Homo sapiens: one gene and its partners. The protein of the gene in region 4 purifies or fractionates together with the protein of the main gene of each other region. This does not show direct contact. Each region holds a gene or a part of one and is shown on either strand. Other genes may lie near its edges.

What was found.
Region 1: the proteins of C9orf78 (region 4) and XPO5 purify together in Homo sapiens (affinity purification with mass spectrometry, with the first as the bait; one large-scale study listed by BioGRID). This does not show direct contact.
Region 2: the proteins of C9orf78 (region 4) and NPEPPS purify together in Homo sapiens (affinity purification with mass spectrometry, with the first as the bait; one large-scale study listed by BioGRID). This does not show direct contact.
Region 3: the proteins of C9orf78 (region 4) and TUBGCP2 purify together in Homo sapiens (affinity purification with mass spectrometry, with the first as the bait; one large-scale study listed by BioGRID). This does not show direct contact.

The regions. Positions count from the first base shown.
Region 1 is NC_000006.12:43,566,039-43,569,538, reverse strand, and holds part of XPO5 (exportin-5), read left to right. Parts: intron 1-801; coding exon 802-828; intron 829-2,184; coding exon 2,185-2,370; intron 2,371-3,500. UniProt on the Homo sapiens protein: Mediates the nuclear export of proteins bearing a double-stranded RNA binding domain (dsRBD) and double-stranded RNAs (cargos). XPO5 in the nucleus binds cooperatively to the RNA and to the GTPase Ran in its active GTP-bound form.
Region 2 is NC_000017.11:47,534,108-47,537,607, forward strand, and holds part of NPEPPS (puromycin-sensitive aminopeptidase), read left to right. Parts: intron 1-3,500. UniProt on the Homo sapiens protein: Aminopeptidase with broad substrate specificity for several peptides. Involved in proteolytic events essential for cell growth and viability. May act as regulator of neuropeptide activity.
Region 3 is NC_000010.11:133,295,373-133,298,872, forward strand, and holds part of TUBGCP2 (gamma-tubulin complex component 2), read right to left. Parts: intron 2,740-3,500; coding exon 2,580-2,739; intron 2,033-2,579; coding exon of another isoform or gene 1,949-2,032; intron 1-1,948. UniProt on the Homo sapiens protein: Component of the gamma-tubulin ring complex (gTuRC) which mediates microtubule nucleation.
Region 4 is NC_000009.12:129,829,533-129,832,275, forward strand, and holds part of C9orf78 (splicing factor C9orf78), read right to left. Parts: intron 2,442-2,743; coding exon 2,364-2,441; intron 1,537-2,363; coding exon 1,339-1,536; intron 10-1,338; coding exon 1-9. UniProt on the Homo sapiens protein: Plays a role in pre-mRNA splicing by promoting usage of the upstream 3'-splice site at alternative NAGNAG splice sites; these are sites featuring alternative acceptor motifs separated by only a few nucleotides. May also modulate exon inclusion events.

The DNA.
Region 1 (3,500 bases), on a different chromosome or scaffold from region 4:
TGGTCTTGAACTCCTGACCTCAAATAATCCGCCTGCCTTGGTCTTCCAAAGTGCTGGGATGGTAGGCGTGAGCCACCGCGCCTGGCCTAATTTTGTATGCTTGTAAGTTAACATTATGTGCCTTTGTATGGATTTGAAATATAAGGATAAAAATCAACCATATTTGTATATTCACTGAATAGCCACTATTCTGATGTATTTAACATCATATATATATGTATTTTTTTTTGTTGTTTTTTTTTTTTTGAGACGGAGTTTCACTTTTGTTGCCCAGGCTGGAGTGCAGTAGTGCAATCTTGGTTCACTGCAACCTCTGCCTCCCGGGTTCGAGTGATTCTTCTGCCTCAGCTTCCCAAGTAGCTGGGATTACAGGCATGCGCCAGCACACCGGCTAATTTTTGTAATTTTAGTAGAGATGGGGTTTCACCATGTTGGCCAGACTGGTCTCAAACTCCTGACCTCAGGTGATCCACCTGCCTTGGCCTCCCAGACTGCTGGGATTACAGGCGTGAGCCACCACGCCTGGCCAACATCCAGTATTTTTGAGTACATGGTTTTCATATACTTAGGCTATACATACATGTTCATGAATTGTATTCATTTAATTATGCTTCTGACTTTACTTGTTCTCCCTAGGGGAATATCAGTTATGCGTGCTTAGTAAAGTTGTGTTATTTTCCAAGATGAAAAATTGCATATATTTAAGAATCATTATTCAAGGGCATTGATTTGTGGGGGGTAGAAAGTTATTATGTGGCCTTTTGCTCATTAAAAACACTGGATCTTTATACTTCCTTTCAGAAGACAGATACTTCTCAGGAGTCAAAGGTAAGAGCTCTTTATAAAGTTTGAAGGAGACCTTTGAACCTTTCAGGTGAGGGGATACGTGCCCCTAGTGGATGGTGACCTCAGCCTTGCTTGTGTTGTATTGTTTTGGAGACAGGTCTTACTGTTGCCCAGGCTGGAGTGCAGTTGTGTGGTCTCAGCTCACTGCAGCCATGACCTCCCCAGCTCAAGTGATCCTCTCACCTCAACTTCATGAGTAGCTGGGAATATAGGTGCGCACCACCATGCCCAGCTAATACTTTCTATAGAAACAGGGTCTCAGTGTGTTGCCTAGGCCGGTGTCAAACCCCTGGCTTCAAGTGATCCTCCAGCCTCGACCTCCTGAAGTGACTGTGGGCCACTGCATCTGTCGTTTGTTTTTTTTGTTTGTTTTTGTTTTTGTTTTTGAGACGGAGTCTCGCTCACTTGCCCAGGCTGGAGTGCAGTGGCGCGATCTCGGCTCACTGCAAGCTCTGCCTCCTGGGTTCACGCCATTCTCCTGCCTGGCCTCCCGAGTAGCTGGGACTACAGGTGCCCGCCACCACACCCAGCTAATTTTTTGTATTTTTAGTAGAGACGGGGTTTCACCATGTTAGCCAGGATAGTCTCAATCTCCTGACCTCATCATCCGCCCTCCTCAGCTTCCCAAAGTGCTGGGATTACAGGTGTGAGCCACCATGCCCAGCCTGTCCTTTGTTCTGTTTTTGATCACTGAGCTATGGTTGAAGGGAAGTAAAAAAAAAAAACAAAAACAGACTTACTTTTTTTTTTTTTTTTTGACACAGGGTCTTACTTTGTCACCCAGGCTAGAGTACAGTGACGCAAACGTGGCTCACTGCAGCTTCAGCCTCCAGGCTTCAAGTGAGCCTTACCTCAACCTCATGAGTAGCTGGGACTATAGATGCACACCATCATGCCTGGCTAATTTTTGTATTTTTTTGGTTAGGGTATTTTTTTTATTTTATTTTATTTTTTGTTTTTTTGGTAGACACTAGTTTTGCCATGTTGCCCAGGCTGTTGTTTTAACTCCTGGGCTCAGTTGATTCACCCACCTTGGCCTCCCAAAGTGCTGGTATTGCAGGTGTGTGCCACTGCACCCAGCCTTGGGAAGTAAAATGATAAGATTTGGGGTTTTGTGAAAAAGATAAAATGGCCACACATGCCAGTATGGTCTTGTTGTTGGATGTTGAGAATGTCATTGTTTGAGAAGTGATTGTGTTCCCTACCTGTGACTGTTACATGAGTATATTCTTAAAAAATAATTTTCTTAGAATTAGAAAATGGGAGTTCAGTTATAACCACTGATTCCTTACCTGTTACCGAGGACTTCATGGTCCAAAGTTACTTCTTTTCTGGTAGGCGCAAGCAAACTGTCGAGTAGGAGTTGCAGCACTGAATACTCTAGCAGGCTATATTGACTGGGTGTCTATGAGTCACATCACTGCTGAAAACTGTAAACTCCTGGAGATACTGTGTTTGCTGTTGAATGAACAGGAACTTCAGTTGGGAGCCGCTGAGTGTCTTCTCATTGCAGTCAGCAGAAAAGTAAGTTACCACTTCAAACTGACTTATCCTCAGTCTCTGAAGTAGGCTGTGTATGTGTTTAATTGCATGTTGTGGCAGAAAGTCATTTAAAGGTTTGGGTTTTTTTCCTTGGGGCCAACTTACTGCCTGCTTCCAACCCCCTTGGACAGGAGTTTGCCAATATTCAAGGGATCCTTTGGCAGAATGTGGAGATTTATCAGGCTGCATGGTTCTTGAAATAGCCATGATACTTGGCAATTTACAGTTAACAGATAAAAGTAAATGTTTAAGTTTAAAGCTCACTTAATGAATGTCAAGGAATCTTGGATGGTGGCTACAGTAGGTTTATATCTGTCTTTTTTTTTTTTTTTTTTTTTTAATTGAAACAGTCTTGCTCTGTCACCCAGGCTGGAGTGCAGTGGCGTGATGTTGGCTCACTGCAACGTCCGCCTTCCGGGTTCAAGCGATTCTCCTGCCTCAGCTTCCCGAGTAGCTAGGACTATAGGCACACGCCACCATGCCCGACTGATTTTTGTATTTTTTAGTAGAGATGAGGTTTTGCCATGTTAGCCAGGCTCTTCTCGAACTCCTGAGCTCAAGTGATCTGCCCTCCTCAGCCTCCTAAAGTGCTGGGATTACAGGCGTGAGCCACTGCGCCAAGCCTATGTCTGTCTTGGCTAACCAATGGAACTGTGACTCTTTTCTCCATAGGAATATTATCTACAAATGTAATTTACTTTGCTGTCATATCAGCATTATTGCCCAACACATTTATTTATTTATTTATTTATTTTTTGAGATGGAGTCTCGTTCTGTTGTCTAGGCTGGAGTGCAGTGGCGCAATCTCAGCTCAGTGCAACCTCTGCCTCCCGGGTTCAAGCAATTCTCCTGCCTCAGCCTCCTGAGTATCTGGGATTACAGGCGTGTGCCACCACACCCAGCTAATTTTTGTATTTTTTAGTAGAGATGGGGTTTCACTATGTTGGCCAGGCTGGTCTCGAACTTTTGACCTCAAGTGATCCACCTGCTTTGACCTCCCAAAGTGCTAGGATTACAGGTGTGAGCCACGGCACCTGGCCTAATTTTTGTATTTTTAGTAGAGACAGGGTTTCACCATGTTGACCAGGCTGGTCTCGAACTCCTGATCTCAG
Region 2 (3,500 bases), on a different chromosome or scaffold from region 4:
TTGAGATGGAGTCTCGCTCTGTCGCCCAGGCTGGAGTGCAGTGGCACGATCTCGCCTCACTGCAAGCTCTGCCTTCCGGGTTCACGCCATTCTCCTGCTTCAGCCTCCCAAGTAGCTGGGACTACAGGTGCCCGCCACTGCACCCAGCTAATTTTTTGTATTTTTAGTAGAGACAGGGTTTTACTGTGGTCTCGACCTCCTGACCTCGTGATCTGCCCGCCTTGGCCTCCTAAAGAGCTGGGATTACAGGCGTGAGCCACTGTGCCCGGCGACAAAATTCTTATCTGTAGAAACCTATATTTATGACTGATATTGGATCAGTTTCCTAACAGTTGGAATCACATAACACAAAACATGCAAGTTGCTTAGTTGCTTTAGTTACAAAATTTTACGATAAGCCCAGAGTATTTGTGTAGGTTACATATTAGAAACTTAGTGGATTTATTTTATTTTTTATTTTTATTTTTTTGAGATGGAGTTTCGCTCTTTCTCCCAGGCTGGAGTGAAGTGGTGTGATCTCGACTCACTGCAGCCTCCACCCTGTGCCCCTGCCGGGTTCAAGCGAGTCTCCTTGCCTCAGCCTCCTGGGTAGCTGGGACTACAGGTGTGTGCCATCACGCCCAACTAATTTTTGTATTTTTAGTAGAGATGGGGTTTTGCCATGTTGGCCAGGCTGGTCTCGAACTCCTGACCTCAGGTGATCCCCTTCCCTTGGCCTCCCAAAGGGCTGGGATTATAGGCATGAGCCACCATGCCCGGCCAACTTAGTGGATTTTTAACCTGGCCTGGGGTGTGGACTGCTGCAGAAGGTGAAGAAATTAGTCCATGTTCAGTGATTTAAAAATCAATTGTCTTGGCCGGGCACGGTGGCTCACACCTGTAATCCCAGCACTCTGGGAGGCCGAGGCGGGCGGATCACGAGGTCAGGAGATCGAGACCATCCTGGCTAACACGGTGAAACCCCATCTCTACTAAAATACAAAAAATTAGCTGGGCGTGGTGGCGGGAGCCTGTAGTCCCAGCTGCTCAGGAGCCTGAGGCAGGAGAATGGCGTGAATCTGGGAGGCGGAGCTTGCAGTGAGCTGAGATTGCGCCACTGCACTCCAGCCTGGGCAACAGAGCAAGACTCTGTCTCAAAAAAAAAAAAAAAAAAAAAAAAAAAGGCTGGGCGCGGTGGCTCACGCCTGTAATCCCAGCACTTTGGGAGGCAGAGGCGGGCAGATCATGAGGTCAGGAGATCGAGACCATCCTGGCTAACCCAGTGAAACCCCGCCTCTACTAAAAATACAAAAAATTAGCCGGGCGTGGTGGCGGGTGCCTGTAGTCCCAGCTACTCGGGAGGCTGAGGCAGGAGAATGGTGTGAACCCGGGAGGCGGAGCTTGCAGTGAGCCGAGATCGCGCCACGCACTCCAGCCTGGGTGACAGAGCGAGGCTCCGTCTCAAAAAAAAAAAAAAAAAAAAATTAGTTGTCTTTCACATTAGTGTGGTCTAGCTGGTTTTGAAAATTTGTTATTATACAGAAGTTTCTCTAGGCCCAAAATTTATTTCATTCCCTGTCCCCTCCCTTTACACTGGATACTTGAGAGCAGTGGACTTTTGTAGATATTTCATATTTTGATCCTCTCCGTTTGTGGATAATTAATTAAAATGAATTATAAGTTTATGTGTGTGACTACTATTTATGATTATGAGTGTGTAGTGGTTGGTACAATAATTGGGTATTCTTTTTTTTTTTTTTTTTTTTTTGAGATGGAGTCTTGCTCTGCCACCCAGGCTGGAGTGCAGTGGCGGGATCTTGGCTCACTGCAGCCTCTGCCTCCCGGGTTCAAGCAATTCTCCTGCCTCAGCCTCCTGAGTAGCTGGGACTACAGGCACGCGCCGCCATGCCTGGCTGATTTTTTTGTATTTTTAGTGGAGATGGGGTTTCACCATATTGGCCAGGATGGTCTTGATCTCCTGACCTCATTCCATCTTCCTCGGCCTCCCAAAGTGTTGGGATTACAGGCGTGAGCCACCGTGCCCAGCTGGGCTTTCTCTTATGGAAATATTTTACCTGTGCCAGAGAAACTAAGTTTATCATTCAAGGCCAGAAATCAGGATATCCTAGCCAACCCCTGGCCTCTACTAACAAAATATACATGTTGGAGATAACTAAATTGGCACTAAGTGAATAGTTGCCAATATAGTAGTTTGTTTGGCAGATTAAAAATTTGGCACCTGAATGGTTATTGTCAATTCTGTGTTACAAATTTTTTGCCCAAATTCTGCATATTTTCTCTCTTTTTTTTTTTTTTTTTTTTTGAGATGGAGTTTCGCTCTTGTTGCACAGGCTGAAGTGCAGTGGCATGATCTCGGCTCACCGCAGCCTCTGCCCCCCCAGGTTCAAGCAATTCTCCTGCCTTAGCCTCCCAAATAGCTGGGATTACAGGCATGCGTCACCACGCCCAGCTAATTTTTTCTGTTTTTAGTAGAGACGGGGTTTCTCCATGTTGGTCAGGCTGGTCTCGAACTCCCGACCTCTGGTGATCCACCCACCTCAGCCTCCCAAAGTGCTGGGATTATGGGCGTGAGCCACCGAGCCACCGTGCCTGGCTTCTTTTTTTTTTTTTTTTTTTTTTTTGAGACGGAGTTTTGCTCTTGTTGCCCAGGCTGGAGTGCAATGGCGCGATCTCGGCTCACCGCAACCTCTGCCTCCCAGGCTCAAGTGTTTCTCTTGCCCCAGCCTCCAGAGTAGCTGGGATTACAGGCGCGCACCACCAAGCCCAGCTAATTTTTTGTATTTTTAGTAGAGAGATGGTTTCATCATGTTGGCTAGGCTGGTCTCAAACTCCTGACCTCAGGTGATCCACCCGCCTTGGCCTCTCAAAATGCTGGGATCACAGGCATGAGCCACCGTGCCTGGCCATTTTCTGCATATTTTCTATGTAATCATTTTGGCCAACACTGTGGCTCACTCCTGTAATCTTAGCACTTTGGGAGGTGGAGGTGGGAGAATTGCTTGAGCACAGGAGTTTGATACCAGTGTGGGCAACATAGCAAGACCCTGTCTCCAGGAAAAAAAAAAGGAAGAAATTTTCTTAAAAAAAATTCATATATATAAAATTAAATTCAAAATATTGGTGATAAGGAATTGAATTTGTTCAGATTTTCTGTTTTTTGAAATGTATCTGTGAGGAAAGAAGTATAACAGTTTTGTATGCTAAGCTTTGTCTAATTCATCTGGCAATGAATTCTGCAGTGAATTTTCCAGATAACTGAAGTTTACCCTTTGAGGCCCTTAGACATTTTTAAAAAAGTTTACTAGGCTGGGTGTGGTGGCTCACGCCTGTAATCCCAGCACTTTGGGAGGCTGAGGTGGGTGGATCATGAGGTCAGAAGTTTGAGACCAGCCTGGACAACATGGTGAAACCCCGTCTCTACAAAAAAATACAAAAATTAGCCGGGCGTGGTGGCACATGCCTGTAATCCCAGCTACTCGGGAAGCTGAGACAGGAGAATT
Region 3 (3,500 bases), on a different chromosome or scaffold from region 4:
GGAGGTCGAGGCTGCAGTGAGCTGAGATTGTGCCACTGCACTCCAGCCTAGGCAACGAAGTGAGACCCTGTCTCAAGCAAAAAAAGAGTCAGTTGCTTCACCTCCCCAATATTCAACATCCTCAGTGTCATCTCAACACCTGCGATGTCACCTGCAAATCACCACGTCCGAACGACCACCGAACACGTGGCTCCTCCGTGCCGGTGTGGGGAAAAGGCAGGACGCGGGCAGATAACACCTTCGCATGCTGCGCGGGAGCGACCAGAGGGAGGGGCACTGCGGAGGCGGCGCTGGCCAGGTGGATGCCCACACGGTGAGGAGAGCATGGCGGGAACGTGGAGTGCTGGCAGCTGCCTCGTGCTCACAAGGTCCTGATGCTTTCCAAGGCACCTGTCCTCATCACACCACTCCACAGCTGTTTTCCAGAGGACGCAGGCCCGAGGTCACACAAGGTCCCGTGGTGTGGCACTGGTCAAATCGTGGGGTGAGGAGCTAGACAGGCCCCGGCATGAACACCACAGTGAGCTCCATTCTCAAGTCTGCACAGGTGGCACAAGGGGACAGGGACAGTGCGGACAAAGGGAGGCAAGGCAGCCTCAATACCGGAGGCACCCCTGGGACCTGTGGTATGTGGCCGTGGGAGGGAGGTGGGGCGAGGCCGCCCCTTTCCTGGGATGCTGAGTGTGCTGAGGGCACCTGCACCCTGACCTGAGAGCTGGCTGCAGGGTTCACAGCCAAGTCTCACACACTTGCTGCCAATCACCGCCACGCTCAGAGCTGCCCACGGCGCCGCAGCGTTACTGGACAGTGCGTTCCTCTTTTGTACAACCCCTTCCCTGAATGGGGAAACATGGGGGGAAAGCCTGAACACCCCCTCAGTGCCTCCTGCTCCAAAAAGCCGGCTCCACTGCTGGGATCCCAGGCAGCAGGGCCCCGCGCTTCCTTCTCCGAAGTCTGCCTGGGTACCATCAGGAGCTCTCAGGTGCCCACCACTCCCCGGCTGCCTGCTGAGTACCCGCTAAGGGAGCAGCTCTCTCTCCCTAAGTCTTCACAGTTGGGTTTTCACAGTTGGATTATTACTGAAAACACTGCACAAAGCAGACTGCTTTGTTTTTTTTTTTTTGAAACAGGGTCTCGCTCTGTTGCCCAGGCTGGAGTGCAGTGGCACGATCACAGCTCACTGCAGCCTCGACCTCTCAGGCTCAAGTGATCCTCCCACCTCAGCCTCCTGAGTAGCTGGGACTACAGGTGCACGCTACCACACTCGGCTAATTTTCACATTTTTTGTAGAGACTAGTCTCGTCCTGTCGCCCAGGCTGGTCTCGAATTCCTGGGCTCAAGGAATCCACGCACCTCACCTCCCTAAGTGCTGGGATTACAGGTGTGAGCCACCATGCCTGGCCGAAGTAGACTGTTTTCCATACTTTTCATTAACTTACAGCATGGTTTTCTATACTTCTCATAACTTACAGCAGGGTTTTTCTATACTTTTCATTAACTTACAGCAGGGTTCTGTTTGCTTGGGGATGAGGAAAACAGGTGGATTTCACGTCACCGTTCTCCAGGGTTTCCGGCAAAGGCAAGGGTTGGCCCCTTGGTGCCCACATTGCAGAGCCGTGAGTAGTGGGGAAGCAGACCACGCTCCATGCTGCCTCTTGAGTTTGGACTAACGGGGATGGGGCAAGATAAGCAGGTATGCTCTGTCCTTAGTTTGTGAAATCTCATTTTTCAATCTAAAAATGTACTTGACTAGGCGTGGTGGCTCATGCCTGTAATCCCAGCACTTTGTGAGGCCAAGGTGGGCAGATCACCAGAGGTCAGGAGTTCGAGACCAGTCTGGCCAACACGGCAAAACCCCGTCTCTACTAAAAATATAAAAATTAGCCAGGCGTGGTGGCGCCTGCAGTCCCAGCTACTTGGGAGGCTGAGGCAGGAGAATCGCTTCAACCTGGGAGGTGGAGGTTGCAGTGTGCCGAGATCACGCCACTGCACTTCAGCCTGGGCGACAGAGCGAGATTCCATCTCAAAAGAACTAAAAATAAATAAAAATAAAAATGTACCCATGAATTGTGACAGATGAACACATCCCAGGTCCCCAATAACAACGTCTTGAAATGACTGTGTGGTCTCACCCGCATCTTGTTTACACGAACACTACTTAAGAGGCCTCTGAGAATACTGCTGTAACAGAATCTATGGGAGTCATGAATCGCTGTTCAGAAATAAGTGCTGCACACAATTCTGATGCCTGCAGGTCTGCACCAGGGCACCAGGATGCCGGCTGGGGAGGGGCCTGCTGCAGGCTGCCCCACAGCTCTGGCAGAAGGGACAGGAGAAGAACCCTCAAGGACCCGGGTGAGCCGTTCTCTGCTGCCATCCTGGGATGGGAATATGGAGGCGGCAGCCAGTCAGCATTGAGCCTCACAACCTGAGGAAAGGCAGGCCCGGGGGAGGGCTGGGCCTGCAAAGTGTCCTGCCCAGAGGCCAGAAATAAACACATGACATACCTATCGGCAGAGCCCGGAAATCAACGCATCACGTACCTATCGGCAGAGCCCGGAAATCAACGCATCACGTACCTATCGGCAAAGCGGTGTCTGTGCTGATGCCAGCACCAATCAGGAAATCCCCGATCAGGGCAGGTCTCTCATACACCCATGCTGGGAAGATGGGGAGGTGCTGGCCTGAATTTTTTTTGTTCTGCTTGTCTCGAAGCATCTTTCTTTTAAGTTCCAGAGACTAGCAAGGACATTTTAAAAAACAAAACCAGAAAGATACACTTTAGCGCAAACACTCAACTAAAGACATGCATAGAAGCTAGCATCTACGGCAAAGATGATTACTCAATTCAACACCCACAAAGGGTCAACCACATAGAAATGAAATGCGCCTCGACATCCCTGCCTGCCACAACGTGAGGGGCTGGGGACAACAGGGCAGATGGGGAGCCCTAGCCCCTCTTCTCAGGAGTGCAGGTCCTGCAAGGGCCCCCCTGGGAAAACATGAGCACCAGCAGTGGGAACCACGGGAGAGGGTGCACCTAGGCACAGAGCCGCTGTTTCAAAGGAGGGCGCCCTGTGAACAAGCTGAATTGCTTCTTTCTGGCAGTGACTAGGTCTGAACACCACTTGATGGGTGAAGACAGGCTTCAGCAACAGACATGCATCCTTACCCTGCCGGAGAAGGGCCCCAGCGTGACAGGATGGCTCCTGACATGTGGTCAGAGAGCCTGCCCTCCTGCGCCAGTGGCCGCCAGAGGCTGATGGGGTCGGCCTGGGCTGGCCCAGCTTTCGGAAGCACTGACTCCCACTCAGGGCTGGTCAGGGACACGGGCAGATGCAAACTGTCTCTGCACGTGGCAGTAAGACCCAGTCTTCTGCCACGGCTGAGGGAGACGTGGACAGAGGCCTAGCACCATGTCCAGCACAGAACGTGCCCAGCAAGAACCGGCTGGGTCCTTGGGAGCCGCTGCACTCAACACGCACCCAGGAGGCTAGGAC
Region 4 (2,743 bases):
ATTTTAGCACTATGGAGAGAAAGAAACCACACCACTTAGAAGATGATAGCACCTTACTACTCAGACATGAGTGGTGAGGCTGGCAGCCCAGCAGTACATAAGAAAATCATGTGTCCTGGGGCACAGCTCTCCACTTTATCAAGCACACTTGTAGTCACATTCTCACGGGACTCTCACGGCTGTCGGAGAACCACAGTTACTCTGCTCTTCTGATCAAGAGCAAATTGAGCTTCAGAGAAGTAAAATGCTTAAGGCTCAAAGTTTGTAAAGGCCAGAAAAGAGCCCAGAAGCCTCCCAGCTTTCTACTGTACCAGAAGATTATTCTAACAATTGTACCTCTTCCATAACAATTCCCTTTTAAAGTGGATATTTTAAGAAGGATCATGGGGAGAAGGGGTGAGTGAGCCTTTAACATGGCTCCTGCTAGAAGAAAACAGAAGAATAAAGGGCCTGATACAGCTGAACAGCTGTAACACGCTAAAGAACCACTTTTGCTTCCAGCAGTCAGGGGCCCTTACTACTCTGATCAAGCCTTCAGCGAAACTTCTAGCAACAACCTGCCAGGGACAATCTCATTTGTATTTGTAGGATTCTAAGGACACAGATAAGAACATGGGGTCTCATTACATTGCCCAGGCTGGTCTTGAACTCCTGGGCTCAAGTGATCCTCCCACCTTGGCCTCCCAAAGAGCTAGGATAACAGGCACAAGTCACCATGTCTGGCCTTTTTTTTTTTTTTTTAAAGGGTCTTACTCTGTCACCCAGACTGGTGTGCAGTGGTGCAATCATGGCTCACTGTAGCCTCAACTCCTGAGCTCAAGTGACAGCCCAGCTAATTTTTTAAATTTTTTTGAGAGACAGGAGTCTGACTATATTTCTCAGGCTGATCTCCTGGCCTCACGTGATCCTCCTGCCTTGGCCTCCCAAGTACTGGGATTATAGGCTTATAGGCATCAGCCACCATACCTGTCCCCCATAAATTTTTTTTTCCTTTTTTTTTGAGATGGAGTCTTGCTCTGTCGCCAGACTGGAGTGCAGTGGCATGATCTCGCCTCACTGCAACCTCCACCTTCAGGGTTCAAGCAATTTCCTGCCTCAGCCTCCCAAGTAGCTGGACTACAGGTGCCTGCCACCATGCCCAGCTAATTTTTGTATTTTTAGTAGAGACGGGGTTCGACCATCTTGGCCGGGCTGGTCTTGAACTCCTGACCTCGTGATCCACCCGCCTCAGCCTCCCAAAGTGCTAGGATTACAGGCATGAGCCACCGTGCCTGGCCTGTCCCCCATAACTTTTAACTGGAAAGCACTGTGTCTTCTGCCTAGGGGTCTCAAACATACTCGATGCCCAGGTCCACCTCAGGAATGCCACTCAGCATCTGGTTGGAAAGCATCTCCTCGGTCTTCTTTGCTGAGGAAACACGGATGTTTTCTGGAAGTTCATAAAGACAGTCCTCTGCATTCTTTGGCTTAACTTTCTGTTCCTCATGTTCCACGATCCCTTTCCTCTTCTTTAGCTCTGTCTCAATGTACTTCATCCTGAAGTGAGAAACCCAGAGGCCTCAGGGAGGGGTGGGAAACACACACCAGGTGTCCTCTAAATCAGTGGTCCCCAACACTGGCCCGCAGACCAGTGACAGTCCATGGAGAAACGAGAAAAAAAATAACTTGAGTTTTTTCATCAAGTTAGAAATTTTCTAAAGAAGCACCAACCTATGAGGTTATGTCCCACTAATCTATTGGTGTTATGATGTACAAGGTTCTTTGAAGACAGAAAGATGATAGTTTGCCAATAGCTTTGTTGGCAAAATAAAAAGTGGGCAAGCCCATGTTTTATCCCTGCAATGTTTTGGGGAAATATTACTAGTCATGAAACCACCTTTGAAAACAAGTTTTTATTTTTTATATTTTGGAGACGGAGTTTCACTCTTGTTGCCCAGGCTGGAGTGCAATGGCGAGATCTTGGCTCGCCGCAAGCTCTGCCTCCCAGGTTCAAGCAATTCTCCTGCCTCAGCCTCCCGAGTAGCTGGGATTACAGGTGCCCACTACCACACCCAGCTAATTTTGTATTTTCAGTAGGGACGGGGTTTCTCCATGTTGGTCAGTCTGGTCTCGAACTCCCCACCTCAGATGATCCACCTGCCTCGGCCTCCCAAAGTGCTGGGACTACAGGTGAGAGCTACCGTGCCCGGCCTGAAAAGACCTTTTAAGAGGTTTTCAAAGTTCTTAAGCTGGGAAGTAGAAAGAGAGGGGCCAACTTTGACATCTTCTAGAAAATTCTAGAAATGTCATCTGTTGACTAAATATCTTGGACTCTGACTGGAGTCCAGCCCCAACTGCTCACAGCCAAACAGACTGACACTTACATGTCTGCATCCTCATCCCTTCGGTTGGTTTCTGCAGAAAACGATGTCCCCAGGTGCAGGTCCTCCTCCTCACTGATCCTGGAGGGAGAGAACAATGAGGCAGAGCTTTCAAGTCACAACTCAATGAGGCTGAGTTTTATGTTCTAAGAAGAAAACAAAGACATAAGCATTTATAATATCCTATTTACAGTTGGCAAAAAAAAAAAAATGCCGTAGTATATGTAAAGAAAAGAAACTCTAGAAATATATGCAAGCAAACTGTTGGCTGCTAGTGATACCTCCAAGGATTGAGTGGATACACTTATCCTTAGGTATCCATGGGGGATTGGTTCTAGTGTCCCTCAAGGATACCAAAATCTGCAGATAGTGAAGTCCCTTAC